Homo sapiens: one gene and its partner. The protein of the gene in region 1 interacts with the protein of each later gene in a pairwise test. Each region holds a gene or a part of one and is shown on either strand. Other genes may lie near its edges.

What was found.
Region 2: the proteins of SEMA4B (region 1) and CPEB2 interact in a two-hybrid assay, tested with the Homo sapiens proteins (one study listed by BioGRID).

The regions. Positions count from the first base shown.
Region 1 is NC_000015.10:90,204,312-90,211,330, forward strand, and holds part of SEMA4B (semaphorin-4B isoform 1 precursor), read left to right. Parts: intron 1-2,170; exon of another isoform or gene 2,171-2,677; intron 2,678-7,019. UniProt on the Homo sapiens protein: Inhibits axonal extension by providing local signals to specify territories inaccessible for growing axons.
Region 2 is NC_000004.12:14,997,593-15,005,482, reverse strand, and holds the start of CPEB2 (cytoplasmic polyadenylation element-binding protein 2), read right to left. Parts: upstream 3,003-7,890; 5' UTR 2,810-3,002; coding exon 1,148-2,809; intron 986-1,147; exon of another isoform or gene 962-985; intron 639-961; exon of another isoform or gene 616-638; intron 542-615; exon of another isoform or gene 326-541; intron 1-325. UniProt on the Homo sapiens protein: May play a role in translational regulation of stored mRNAs in transcriptionally inactive haploid spermatids. Binds to poly(U) RNA oligomers. Required for cell cycle progression, specifically for the transition from metaphase to anaphase.

The sequences.
Region 1 (7,019 bases):
TGCCTAGGGACAGTGGGGCTATGTCTGTGGTTTAAAACAAAATCCCTTGAAGTGGAGCGTCCAGCTTGCCCTGCATCTGGGGTCCTTCATAGGGAACCCTAATTATTGTTGATGAACAGCACATTCCTGGGGTGCTTAAGATGCAGGGAGCCGATTTGTGGCCTCGCCCAGTGGCCAGTAGGGAGAGGAGGATGAGGGGACAGCCACTGGGGGCTCCACAGTCAGCTGGAAATCTCTGAAAGGAACACTTCAAAGAAGTGTGTGGAATTTGGGTTCTCTTGCGTTGGAACTACCATGCAGAGCTCCAGGACCAAAGCCTCGGTCAGGAGCAGGAGTGGTGCTGAGTAGAAACAATGGCGCCCAGTGCTTCCCAGCCTGGCCACGTGGGGAGAAACAAAACACGCCTCCTCTCATGGCCCTCCAAAGTCTTTTTGGGCCACCTTATTTGGACACTTAATGGGAGTTATTATTATTGTTATTTTGAGATGGAGTTTCGCTCTGTCTCCCAGGCTGGAGTACAGTGATGCCATCTCCGCTCACTGCAGCCTCCACCTCCCAAGTTCAAGTGATTCTCCTGCCTCAGCCTCTCGAGCAGCTGAGACTACAGGTGCCCGCCACCATGCTTAGCTAATTTTTGTATTTTTGTAGAGATGGGATTTCACCATGTTGTCCAGGCTGGTCTCGAACTTCTGACCTTAGGTGATCTGCCCATCTTGGCCTCCCAAAGTGCTGGGATTACAGGCATGAGCCACCACATCCGGCCTTAAAGGGAGTTATTAATTCCCTCCTGCCCCAGAAGTGCCGGGCGGGAAAGCTCTGGACGCAGTATTTCTGAAGCAGATTGGACAGAAATCTGCAGGCCTGCAAACTGCAGTCAACAAAACGCCATTGAGCAGAGAGAATGGAGCATTTGGCACAAATCAGCTGCTTGCCCTCTGGCCCTGGAGGAGGCAGCCAGGGTCAAGGCTGCCCTGGGAAGCCCTGATGCTGGTCGCTTGTTGAGCCCTCAGCCCGGTTACTGGCTTCCCTCCTTGACATGGTCTCAACTGGACATGAGCCTTTGTCCCCAGCTCTGTCCTATGGGCCAGCATCTCTTTGGCTCTGCAGAGGTGAGTGGAAGGCGCTCTAACTGCGGATGCTCAGAGCCTGGCTTTGTAAAGTAGCTTGCCACCCTTACTAACTGCACAACCTTGGGCAAGCTCCTGGCCTTCTCCAGGCCCATTTTCACATTAGCAAGAGAGGAATAATGGCCATCTTCACAGTGTTCTGAGAGGATTACATGAAATAATGTATGTAAAGTGTTTGGCATGGTGCCTGGCACATGCTGCATCCGTAGTAAAAAGGTAGCTTCTGCTCTGGTGTGCTAGAAACCCCCTGCCAGCCTTGCTTGGTGAGGTTATTTGCATCCATTTTTGTGCACACTGGTGGTATGCAGGCCCTCTGCTAGGTGCCAAGCCTTGTCAGGCTTAGTGCCTGCCCTGGTAGAAAAGACAAAGCAAGGCCCCCAGGAGCTGATTGGAGGTCATTACCAGGGGTCCTGCTTAATTATAGCCCAGTTATTAAGTGCTCCTGATTCAGCCTTTTCAAAGTCCTCCTTTGCCTGAAGAACCTCCTCTGCATGGGGCTGGACCATGCCTCTCCCTGCCTGCCCTTCACTGGTTCTGCTCTGCCTTCAGCACAACCCACATCCAGCTGGTGTTGAAATACCTCTGTGCCAACCCAGGAGAGCGCTAAACTTGCACAACTTTTGGGGCATATCTGGATATACCAGCATGTTCATCCTCTAGGCAAGAGACAGAGGGTGGCACGGGGCCTGGAGAAAAGGCTAGACTCGGGTCATGTCATCAATCACTCCTTCCTTTATCTTCTTAGAGCCTGTTGCCTCTCACTCCACCCCCATGGGTGCTCAGGCTGGCGCAGGACTCAGGGGGCCTCTGATGTGGCCCTCCCTGGGGATCGGGGCAACAGGAACAACACAACGCGAGACTCCTGTGGTCGAGGCCTGCCTTCCCTCAGATTAGCTTTTTGGGAAGTCTGCTCCCTTGGACTGCATTCTCCATGCTTTTCCCCAGCTGGTTTCCCTGCCCCTCCTCTTCACATTCTGACCTCCCTGTGCTGGATGTGGGACAGCTATCCTGTCTGTAAGATAAGATAATTAAAAGCCTGGTGGCTCTTTCCCTGCTGCCACCAAGTCATGCAGAGACGGAGGCTCAGGCTCAGTTGCGTTCAAGATTCGGCTTCACCCGTAACCCACTGCCATGGCCGAGGAAGGCATTGCTGCTGGAGGGGTAATGGACATTAATGCTGCTTTACAAGAGCTGTTGAAGACAGCCCTCATCCACGATGGCCTAGCACATGGAATTCGCAAAGCTACCAAAGCCTTAGACAAGCGCCAAGCCCATCTTTGTGTGCTTGCATCCAACGGTGATGAGACTGTGTATGTCAAGTTGGTGGAAGCCCTTTGTGCTGAGCACCAAATCAACCTAATTAAGGTTGATGACAAAAGAAACTGGGGGAATGGGTAGGTCTCTGTCAAATTGACAGAGAGGGGAAACCCCGTAAAGTGGTTGGTTGCAGTTGTATAGTAGTTAAGGACTATGGCAAGGAGTCTCAGGCCAAGCATGTCATCAGAGAGAACTTCTAATGCAAGAAATGAAGAAAATATCTTTGGCTCACAAAAAAAACAAAAAAAGCCTGGTGCCCACAGCGGCTCTATACTTATTAGCTCACCATCGACCCTCTTCTGGGCACTGAATACTGGAACACTAAGGGGTGGCTCCTGCCCTGTGGCAGAGATGGTCACAGAAGAGTAGAGTGGCTACAGAGTGATACACAGAGGTGGAGTGTTCTGTCCAGCTGCTAGAGTTCTGCCTCCCAGGCCTGTGATCTGACTTGTTGTGCATGGAAGCTCTATTCTGCACTCCTGGATCCATCTGGAAGCCCATCCTGTAGTCTTAACAGGCTTCCGAGAGGTGGGGGGCCTGTGGCGAGGGGGTTTCAGTGGGGATGGTAGGTAGGAGACAGAAGCCATCATTTTACCATACTCCTAAAGAGGAGCCAAATTAGCCAACTCGTGTCCTCTTTTTTGGCATCTTTTGGCCCATCCTCTAGGAAGGGGGCCAACTGGAAGAGCAAATAAAAGCGGCCATTGCGGTGCACTCCCTGTGTGCCAGGCACTGCTGTTGGATGTGGAAGTGCATTGCTTTATCTCATGCAGATGAGGAAACCAAAGCTCAGTGAAGCTAACTCATTATCAAGGTCATGCAGCTATAGAAGAGTTTGGGACCAAGCCTTGGGCCACAGTTCTCGATTCAGCAACCACATTCTTTCCATTAGAACAGCTGCCTCCTGCTTCACCTGTGAATCGTACAAAAGCAGCAAGATGACCCGGCTCAGCCCTTGAATAATTGCAGGTTATATTTTTCCATCTGTTAAAGAAATCTGTTGAGGTCAGTCTCTGGACGGGGCAGGGGATCCAGCCGAGGCCCCTGGTTGCATGGCCATAGTTGGGAAGAGGGCAGAGCTGGCAGACATGTGGCACACAGGAGACTGAGGCACACATCTCAGACAGAAGTTTGCAAACTGAAGGGTAGTGGGCCACAGCCAGCCTGGAGATACATTTTGTTTGACTTCCAAGTTCTTTAGAAAAATTTTAATTAGGCCAGGTGCGGTGGCTCACGCCTATAATCCCAGCACTTTGGGAGGCCGAGGCGGGTGGACCACTTGAGGTCAGGAGTTTCGAGACCAGCCTGGCCAACGTGGTGAAACCCCATCTCTACTAAAAATAGAAAAATTAACTGGGCATGGTGGCAGGCACCTGTAATCCCAGCTACTCAGGAGGCTAAGGGAGGAGAATCACTTGAACCTGGGAGACAGGGGTTGCAGTGAGCCGAGATCATGCCATTGCACTCCAGCCTGGAAGACAAGAGCAAAACTCCATCTCAAAAAAAAAAAAAGAAAGAAAAATTTTAATTAGTTGCTGATATTTAAAACTTAGGAAATTTTACATAAAAATCTAGGTTTCCAGCTTTTCTGAAGGTCTGGTAAGGTTGGACCCCCATTCCGTGTAGCAGCACGTGTCTGGGGCCTAAGTCTTGCGTGTGAAAAAGGGCTAGAGTAAAAGTAGAAGGCAAGAAGCAAGGGGAGGAGTAGGGAGCATGGGGAGAACCCATCTTGATTATTGATGGTCACTGACCCCTAATCTTTGCAGAGCTTTGCACTGCCACGTACTGTGTTTATTTAGTCTTCTCAGCAATCCTGCAAGGCAGCCCTCTCAGGACTGAGAATTTGTTCGGGGTTGCACAGTGGGTCAGTGATCAAGTGAGGATTCACACACATGTCTTGTGCCCCTTCCAGTCCGTGAAGCTTGTTTCTTGTCTCCCTACCATACTTTCAGCTGTCATACTTCCACCTGTCATACTTAATTCTTTTTTTCTTTTTCTTTTTTTTTTTTGAGATGGGGTCTCACTCTGTCACCCAGGCTGCAGTGGTGAGATCTTGGCTCACTGCAACCTCCACCTCCCAGGCTTAAGCGATCTTCCCACCTCAGCCTCCTGAGTAGCTGGGACCTCAGGCATATGCCACCATGCCCAGCTAATTTTTGCATTCTTGGTAGAGACAGGGTTTCATCATGTTGCCCAGGCTGGTCTCGAGCTCCTGTCAGCTGTTATACTTCTATGTGTTCAGTGCTTTTGGGAGGGGTCAGAGTGGTAGCAGTGCTTCTCAGACACACTTTTGTGAGTGTGATGCTTCAGGACCTCCACGTTGCCCCATTTTTATCTGGGGCCCCTCTCTGGGCTGGAGCACTCTCACTGGGACTGTGTCATTCATTTGTTTAGTCAACAAACATTTATGGAACAACTGCTGGGAGCTCACCTGACCAGTTGATACAAATATGAATAAGACATGGTCTTGATCTTGAAGATGCTGTCAGCTTGGTGGAAAAGAAGAGCACAAAGACCGGGCGCGGTGGCTCACACCTGTAATCCCAACACTTTGGGAGGCCGAGGCAGGCGGATCAGCTGAGGTCAGGAGTTCAAGACCAGCCTGGCCAACATGGTGAAACCCCATCTCTACTAAAAAAATATATATATATATACAAAAATTAGCCGGGCATGATGGCGGGTGCCTGTAATTCCGGCTACTCAGGAGGCTGAGGCTGAGGCGGAAGAATCGCTTGAACCCAAGGTTCAAGGTTGCAGTGAGCCAAGATCATGCCATTGCACTCTAGCCTGGGCGACAGAGCAAGACTGTCTTAAAAAAAAAAGAGAGAAGAGCGCAGAAAGACCCTCCTCATCATCATCAAACATCAAACATTGCCATCATCCGACAGTGTCACCAGTGCACTACAAGACGTGTGAACAGGAAATGATGGGCATACGGAGAAGGGCCCTTGCCCAGCCGGGGATCCAGGAAGGCCTCCTGGAGGAGGTGGAACTGAGCCAAGTCTCAAAGGATGAGTGTGAGTTAGTCAAAAGGAAAGCCTTCTGGGTGGAGGGGACTTCCTGAACAGACCGGAGATGAGAGAATTGGGCCCTTGAGTTGCAGTTCCATGTCACTTGGTCGAACCAAGAGGTGGGTGGGTGGCAAGCACTAGCAAGTTAGGAGCTTGGACGACGGGGTGCTATTGAAGTTTTTAGGCAGAACAGTGACGGCTCCCAGAGAGCCCTCTGGCTGCAGCATAGCAGCTGGCCTGGAGATGGGAGGCTGGTTGGGAGGCTGCTGTGATGGTGGCCTAGGTGAGAGAGGATGGTGCCAGGCTCAGGACTGCGGTAGTGGGGATGGTGAGGGGAATGGATTTGGAAAATATTGAGAGAAAATTGGCAGGATTTGATTATAGACTGGACTTCTGAGGAAGGAGGATGGTGAGACACCCAGGTGAGTGGTGCCACACACAAACACAAAATGCCAAGCCAGGGAGTGGGACTGGAAGGGGGCGGTGAGGTGGTGGGAGGCACCCACAGAGGCCCTTCTGCACTGTGGGGTCTGGTGTGTTGGAGGAAGATCTGCACTTGGATGAGGAGATTTGGGGATCGCCAGCATCCGCGTCATTGAAGTGATGAGCATGGACGTGTGACCCAGGGGCTTGAACGGAGTTAAGAAGAGCAGGGCCAGGAGCAGACAGACCTAGAGAGCAAGAACATTCAGGAGCAAAGCCTGAGGCAGGAGGGTGGTCATCAACACAGATGCTGCAGCCAGGTGGCCCAGGGTCGGGCGGCATCCCCACCACTCCTCCCGGGGATGACTTGCACCTGAAACAGAGGTAATAAAACACAGCAGCCTTGTGAGGATGACATGACTTAATCCGTTTAAAGGGCTGAGAAAGTGCTCACATACTTTAGCTCTTTGAGGGCTAGAGGCCCAGAAGGCATGTGAGGGAGACACGGAGTGATGCTTGAGACTGGGGGCACAGGTACCTAGAGGACGGGGTGGCGTGGCCCGTGTCTGGGGTCTGTCAGCGAGGCGATCCCTGGGCTCTTGGCAGGGCTGGCACTGCTGAACGTGGGGCTGGCTGAGGCCCAACTTCTGTGGAGGAGTGAGTGGAAGGTGAGAGGCAGAGATGGCATGGGGTGGCTGTTCTCTTTGGGAGCTTGTCTAAGGCAGGTGGAGGGAGGCACAAAAGTTTCTAGAATGGACATTGGAACAAAAACTGCTTTCTGACAGGTAGAGTTGGTGACATAGGATTTGGTCTCTGAGGAGATGGGGTGGGAAGTTGAGGTTGTTTATGCCTGATGACCCCGATTTCCTTGGAAGAAGTGGAGACATCTATAAAAGCAGGAAGGCAGACCCAGGGCAGAGGCCCTAGAAGCCGGGTTGTTAGAGGGGAGCCAGCCCCTGAGCAGAGGGACTGAGCGTGTCCCTGTGTAGACCTGTGAGCAGGCAGGCGGCAGGCAGGCTCCTAAGGTGACGGCAGTGGTCTGTGCACCCATGGCACAGGCCCTAGGTCGGGACTGGGACTGCCTGGGGGTTCTGGCAGAGGCTCTTCGTCTGCCCACTTGGGGCTGTAGCAATGGCTTTCC
Region 2 (7,890 bases), on another chromosome or scaffold:
GCGGTCACCCAAAAATTGTATTGAGGGAATAACAAAAAAGATCTTGAATCAAAAAAGATCCGGAAAATAAAAATTCTGCCCAGTGTCATTTCACAATATTACCTACTTAAAATACACACGGCCCACATATTCCCTTGTAGAAGGTTAAGGCAACCAAAAAATGTACCGAAAGTCTACGAGGAAACACACCAATCCCAGATCCAAGTTCAGTTTTGTCTTAAAACCCACAAAACATGACCCCAACATTGAAAAGCACAGAAACTAAGACATTCGTGGGATATCTCGGTTTGAACCCGAGCGGTCACTAACAGTTTCTCTTTCCCAGTCCTGTGACAGCCAAGGAGGCGGCCCCGCGGGAACCAGGTCCTGCGAGGAGGGCGGTCGGCCGCTCCCTCCCGACTCCCTCCTGGGCCGGCGGCCCAGGGTGCGGCGCTGCCAGCAGGTTGATCGGGCGGAGCTTTGGGAGCGGCTCGACTGACCGCCCGAGGGGCTGAGGCTTCAAGGCGAGATCACCGCCGGCCAAATAAGAATAAACAAACTCCAAAGAAAAAAAAAAGCCTTTCCGCCTTCCCTCATTGGACAGCGAGACAGAGTCTTGGGCTCCTCCGCACGCACCTTCTCCAGCAATCATTTTTCCCCTGCCCAAGTTCACTTCCCACGGCCGCTCTTCCGAGGCCCCCGGCCAGCCCCCGGTCCTCGCCGCGCCTCCCCGCGTCGGGGGTCCGGGGCGGCGGCCCTCCAGGCCCAGGGCACAGGGCGGATCCCGGGGTGCGCCAGCTAGGAGGGCCGGGTTGAGACGCCGCGCCCGGCCGCCCGCGGCCCCGGCGCTATTCGGCCCCTGCCCCAGTCCCCACTGCTGCGCCGGGACGTTCGAGGGGGCGCCCGGCCAGCCGCGGCTCCCAGCGCGAACTCGTCTCCCACGCCCCCACAGCCCACGGTGGCCACTGCCCTCCCAACCCACCGGGGGCTGGGGTTCCGAGTCCTGTCACGGTTGTCCGCCCTCAGTTCCACTCTCACTTGGGCGAGTGGCCCCCGTCGCGGCTTCTCTCGGGGCTAAGGTCGGGTCCCCGGCTGCCCTGCCCCCGCCTCCGTCCCCCGCCCATGGTCTCCCGGTCCCGCGGCGCGGCCAGGCCGCCGCCCGCCGTACCTGGTGGTGGTTATAGGAGTTCCTCTGCTGCAGGAAGGCGGCGGCCGCCGCCTGGTGCTGCTGCTGGAGCTGCGGGCTGACGGGCGACCTCCGGCTCTGCGGCTGCTGCGGCGCCGCGGGCGGCGGGGGCTGCTGTTGAGGTATATTCATGGCGGGCGGCGGCGGAGGGGGCACAGCGGTAGCCGAGAAGGGGCCGCCGAAGCCGCCGCCGCCGCCGCCGCTCGTCGGAACGCTGAGCCCAGTGCAGCCGTGCGGCGACACGGGCGAGAAGCTAGGGAAGAAGGCCGGGTTCATGGACGACGGCAGCCCGGGGTAGAAGCCGTTCTCTGAGTCGGGGCTGGGCGGCGGCATGGCGCTGAGCGAGCCGCCGCTGCCGCCGCCCGGGGTGGTGGCAGACGAGCCGGGCGGCTGCGGCTGCGGCTGGGGCGGCTGCTGGGGTGGCGGCGGCTGCTGCTGCGGCTGGGTCGGCGGCGGCTGCTGGGGCTGGGGTGGCGGCGACGCGGTCTGCACCGACCAGGGGGTGCCGAAGCCGGGCAGCGGCGGCGGCGACGCGGAGCCGCCTCCCCCTCCGCCTCCTGGGGGCCCCCCGCCCCCGCCGCCGCCGCCGCCGCCCGGGTGTGGAAGGTCCGGGCTCTGCAGGCTGCTGAAGGCGCCCGCGCCAAGCGCACCTCCGGGCAGGAGGTTACTGGGACTGTTGAGCAGAGGGTGGTTGGGGGACTCCATGGAGCCCGGCGCGGGGTTCACCGGCGTCGAGGAGGCCAAGCCCGCATTGGGGGACTCGGCGGCGCTGCCCTCGCCCGCGGCTGGGGTCTTGCGAGGGCTGCCCGCGCCTCCGTGGCGGCGCCGCGGGGCTGCAGGCGGCGAGGGAGGGAGCTGCGGGAGCGGGGGCAGGTCTGCCGGACGCTGCCGCGGGGCGAAGTCCTGCGGCGAGAGGTGCTGCTGATGCAGGAGGCTGAACTGCTGCGGCGGCTGTTGCTGCTGGCGCTGAGCGAGCTGCGCCGGCTGGAGGAGCGGGCCGGCTGGCGGCGGCGGCGGGCTGAACCGACCGGGGCAGTGGAGCGGCGGAGGCGGCGGCGGCGGCTTCGAGTCCGGAGGGTGGGGAAGGTGGGGAGGGCTGAACTCTTTCCTCTTCTGGCTGCTCAGCTGCTGCTGCTGCCGCTTACTGAAGTCCTGCGGGGAGGAGGTGCGGCAGCAGCAGCAGGAGGAGGCGGAGGAGGAGGAGGGGTGGTGCAGACTCGGTTTGAAGTCCTGGGAGGGGAGGAGGTGGGTCACACCCGCGATCGTGCCGCCGCCGGGGTGGTGGTCGGGGAGTTTCTCCGTGGCCGCCGCCCCCGAAAGCGGCCGCGCCGGCTGCTGTGTCAGCCCCAGAAGCAGCTCATCCTGCATGGTCTGCTGATGCGCCAGGAACGGGGAGGAAGAGGAAGCGGCGGCGGCCGGGCTGCCCGCGCCGCCGCCGAGGGGGACGGAGAAGGGGGAGGCGGCCTCTAAGAAGCCGGTGACAGGCAACGGTGGTGGCGACAGTGGGCCGAAGGGCGTGGCGGAGGGCAGCGGGTTGACGGACCCCACGGCGTAAGGACCATACGCCTCGCCGCAGAACAGGGGCCCAGGACTGCTACTTCGGAGCGGGGCGGTCTGCAGCACCCCAAACCCGAAATCCCTCATTTATCAGGCCGCCGGCAGCGGGAGGAGACGCTCCTCGTCCCCTGCCCCACCTAGGAAGCCGCCGGCGCTGGGGTTGCGCGGCCGTGGTGGAAGGAGGGGGAGTCAGTGAGAGAGGGACACCGTGACTGAGCCAGGGGGCACCGACTTCGGCCCCACCACCCCTCGCGGCGATCGCCGCCGCCGCCGCCGTCGCAGTCGCCGTAGCCGCCCTGGCCGCTTAAGAACCCCGGAACGTGCGTCAGCGCCACCTCACAATCGCGCCGCCCCCCGCGGTGCGTCCCGGCACGCGCGGGCGCGAGGCCACCGCGTCCCCGTCGCCCCTCCCCGCCCCTCATTACTATGCAGACGCAGCCGAGGGCGCGCTCGCGCTCCCGGGAGGGCGGGAGCGAGCGGCGTGTCCCGTTGGGTCTCTCCGCTCCCGGGGAAATGGACAGGCCGGTTGGGGTGGGGGTCGGCTGGCAAACAGTGGTCGGGAGCATTGGGCGGGCGCGCGCACGAGGGCAAGCACGCGCGGGAGGGAGGGACGGTTCCTGGGCAACGGCCCCTCCTTGGCGCGGGATCCGCGCAGAGTCTGCCTGGGTCGCACGCGTCTCCGCCCCTCGCGGTGCCTCCTCCTTCCTGTCACCTCGGTTCCGCCCTGGGTGGGGAGAAGCCCTGCTGCACCACTCGGGCTTCCCAGAGCGGGGCTGGCCCGCGGGGGAAACTGAGGCCCGGGACCCCGACCGGCGCCTGCACTGTGCGACCCGCGTAGAAATAGGCGCCCGAGGGGCCCCCAGCGCAACGCGGGAGCCCGGCCCAGCCCGGGGGTCCTGTGGTGAACTAGCGTCTGGGCTCTGCCGGCTTGAAGTCCGCTGAGCGCCTCGCCGCGCACCTCTAGACCCCGAGTCCCCGATCTAGGGCCTCCTTGTAGCCCTAGGTAGCGCCCTCTAAGCTTGTTTCTGTTTTTAGGCGCTGGTAGGAGTGCTGTCACCGACGTCGTAGAGCCGCCGAGGGTGTTTCTGTAGGGTAAACATGAAGCCTCGGCTATATTCCAGGCATTTTCACTTGGGTAAGAAGGAACAAAGTCCCTGGAACAAACACGCTCCGCGTGGTTATTTACACACTCGGATGCGTGGAACGGGTTCCACGGCGAGCTCCCATAGTAACCCCGGGCCAGCTCCGCTTCATAAAAGCCTTTCGTGTGCCATCAGGGCTGCAGCGTGGGACTCCTCCCCACCACATTCATTCCGGCGTCCCCGCCCCTTCCCCCCAGGGAGACTCTAATTTATTCCTAAGCTTTATGAATTTTCAAGGGAGAAATAGTTCTTACATCAGGGAAAAAAGGAGGTTCTGACTCAGCAGCAGACTTGTTGAGACTTGCAAAATGGAAGGGAGAGAGCTTTCCATGGTAGAGCTCTTTAGAAGCATTAGAGGAGGAACTAATCCTGTGTTTCCTTTTGTATAGAAACATTTTACATAAAGTATTTGAAGGTCTAGATAAAGAATAACAGAGTGATCCATACTACATGATGAGGTGAACTTTATGTTTCTGTTTTGTAATTTTAACTGTTTTGCTTGATGCTTAGAGAAATGAAACTATTAAATGAATCCTAGAATATAGACTCAAACCCCCAAAGCAATAGAAGGTGGATTCAGACTTTACTTGATTTTGGTTTACAAGTGAACTAAGATTAAATATTTAATTTTATAAATTAGCATACTCTTACTGATGTAGGCAGAGTGTACATTTTTATAAGTCCTCATTCTCTATTTGAATTCTACTTCTGTTCAGTGTCTCAAATTTATATAAATCGAAATAAACATGGTAGAAAGAGAGCAACATTGCCCCAGGGAACTATACTTCATGTATAATGTTTATCTCTGCTATCCTGTCCAATGAACCAAGTTTTATGTTGCCTTTACAATAAGGAAAAAGTACTTTTTAAAAAACTCAAATGGTTCAGAATTTGGTCAGGTGAATAGAAAATTGGTTCAACTTATTAATCTCAAAATCATTTTTAACAGTCAGGCAAAATGTAGAACTGGAGAAGTATTTTTATTCTAAATTACAATGTCTAGAAAATAACCTGAGCTCAGAATTTAAAATATAAATGGTTATTTTCAGAGTATATATTGACATATTAAATATTCATTTTTTAAAAGGTATTGTGCAGGAAAAAAAACTACTTCTGCAACTAAGGAATGTAAAGTCTTAACAACGGATGATTTTTTTCCAAGTACAGTTGTATTTGATTGGAATCATTTGCAGATCCAACAACAAATCTTGAAATAGGGGGAAAATACAGGTATAAACCTTAGCTCAATTATCCACTAACACCGCAGTTAGTAAAGAGGAGAGAGCACATACTTTTAAAAGCTAACTGGTGCCTTTCTGGGCTAGAGTTTTGAACAAAAACAAGATTTCTTAGTGCTCTGGTACTAGTTTTGTCTTAGAGGATTTAGAGCTCTCTGAAACGGGGAAAAGCCATCAAGTTTGTTATTACATAATAATGTCAAACTTCATATTAAATACACCAAATTCCAAATCCTGCCAGGGCCTCTACTCACTACTTTTGTGAGGGCCCCATTTTTTTAGAGCAGAAAGTTACTTTCTGACATCTTGTAAGCTGGTGATCTTGCCCTTATTGAAAATATTCAAATGAAAAGGTTTCCTAGGGTGGAGAGTGGAGTGGGGTAGGGAGAAGGAGCAGCAAATACTGAGGAGGGACTATGGTCCTCTAGCAGTTTCCATGCCAAGATCTTATGAGTCCATTCAATGATTTTTTTGGTTTTTTACATGAAAATATTTTGACTCATGATCATTAACTAGGACCTTGACTTTGTATTTGACAGTCCCTTATTCATTTACTCCCACTGTCCTGGGCAAGTATTTTTAAAAGTATTTTTGCTACAACCCAATATATGTGCAAGTACACACTCATGCAACTGAAATAAAGCTGCTATTAAGCAATTCTTTTAATAATGCAACAAACTCCTTTTTATAATTCTATTTTCATTTTAAAATCACGTTTGATCTCAAATTACAAAGTTGGTTTTAACACCCTCTATCAGATTATGAACTGAAAAACCACTGTCCTAGACCATTTCAAACATTCTGCTCAATCTGAAAACCTCTTGTCACATCTCTCCTACATGCATCTGCTAGCATGTAGCACTCTCAGCTGCTGAGCTACATGCTTATTTCACTGAGAAAAAAGAAGCAACCACAGGAAAACTTCCACAGTCTCCCTGCATCTGTCCCTGCACACCTTGCCTTCCCTCTCGATACAATGGATGGCCCATCTGCCCATACTCCTGTCTAAGGCCAGCCTCTCCACTGGCGGAGCAGATCCTACCTCTAACCTACTCAAGACATGGGCTCCAACAGTTTTCTCTCTCTGTCCTTCATCATGACCTCTTTCCTCTCCAGGAAACACTTCCATGTGCACAAAAACTTGCTTTACTAGTTCTCACCTTTGAAAAGTAAAGCCAAAACCTTTTGACCTTATATTCTCCCTCCTTTAGCTACTGCCTTCTTTTTCTGCTTTTACATTGCCTGAACGACTTGCCCATTTGACTGAGTGTCTCATAGATACCTCAAATTAAACACGTCAAAAATTAAACTCCCTGCCTCACTAGGCCCAATCCCTGTGGCGCTCCATTGTTCTGGTTGCTCAGGCCAAAAACCCTGGAGTCATTCTTCACTTCAATCCACTTCTGTCCTTCTTGCATCATATCCAAGCCATCAGAACATGTTGCTTGTCCTACCTTTAAATTACTGGCATAACCTAGAGATACCGTGGGTTTTGTTCCAGATTACCACAATAAAGCAAATATCCCAATAAAGCAAGTCACACCAATTTTTTGGTTTCCCAGTGCATGTAAAAGTTATGTTTACAGTATATTATACTCTAAACATAAGTTCTCAATTATAGTCTAAACATAACTTGTAATTACATTTAAATAAGTGCACAGTAGCATTATTCTGAAAAATATACACACATTAATTTAAAAATACTGCTAAAAAGTGCTAATGATCATCTGAGCCTTCAGTAAGTCATAATCTTTTTGTCAGTGGAGAGTCTTGTCTCGACATTCATGGCTGCTGACTGATCAGCATGGTGGTGGCTGAAGGCGGAGGTGGTTGTGGCAATTTCTTAAGACAAAGATAGAGTTTGTCACATAAATTGAATCTCCCTTTCATGAAAGATTTCTCTGTACCATGCAATGCTGTTTGATAGCATTTTGTCCACAGAACTTCTTTCAAAATTAGTCAGTCCTCTCAAAACCTGCTAATGCTTTATCATCTAAATTTATGTAATATTCTAAATCTTTTTTGTCATTTCAGCAGTGTTCATAGCATCTTCATGAGGAGTAGATTCCGTCTCAAGAAACCACTTTCTTTGCTTATCCATGAGCAGCAACTCCTTCTCCATTCAAGTTTTATTGTAATATTGCAGCAATTCAGTCACATCCTCAGGCTCCACTTCTAATTCTAGTTCTCTTGCTATTTTTACTACATCTGCAGTAACTTCCTTCACTGAAGTCTTGAACCCCTCGAAGTCATCCAAGAGGGTTGGAATCAGCTTCTTCCAAACTCCAGTTAATGTTGACACTTTGACCTCCCATGAGTCACACATATTCTGAATGGCAGCTAGAATGGTGAATCCCTTCCAGAAGGTTTTCAATTTGCTTTGCCCTTATCCATCAGAGAAATCACTATGGCAGCTATAGCCTTATGAAATTTATTTCTAAAATAATACTTGAGGCTGTCCTGGTGACAACTTAGTGATTTTAAATTTTAAAATGAAAATAGAATTATAAAGAGGAGTTAGTTGCATTATTAGAAGAATTGCTTAATAGCAGCTTTATTTCAAAACAATCTCAGCACTTTGGGAGGCCAAGGCGGGCAGGTCACTTGAGGTCAGGAGTTCAAGACCAGCCTTGCCAACATGGTGAAAACCATTCACTTCTAAAAATACAAAAATTAGCTGGGTGTGGTGGCGCATGCCTGTAATCTCAGCTAATTGGGAGGCTGAGGCAGGAGAATCGCTTGAACCTGGGAGGCGGAAGTTGCAGGGAGCCGAGATAGTGCCACTGAA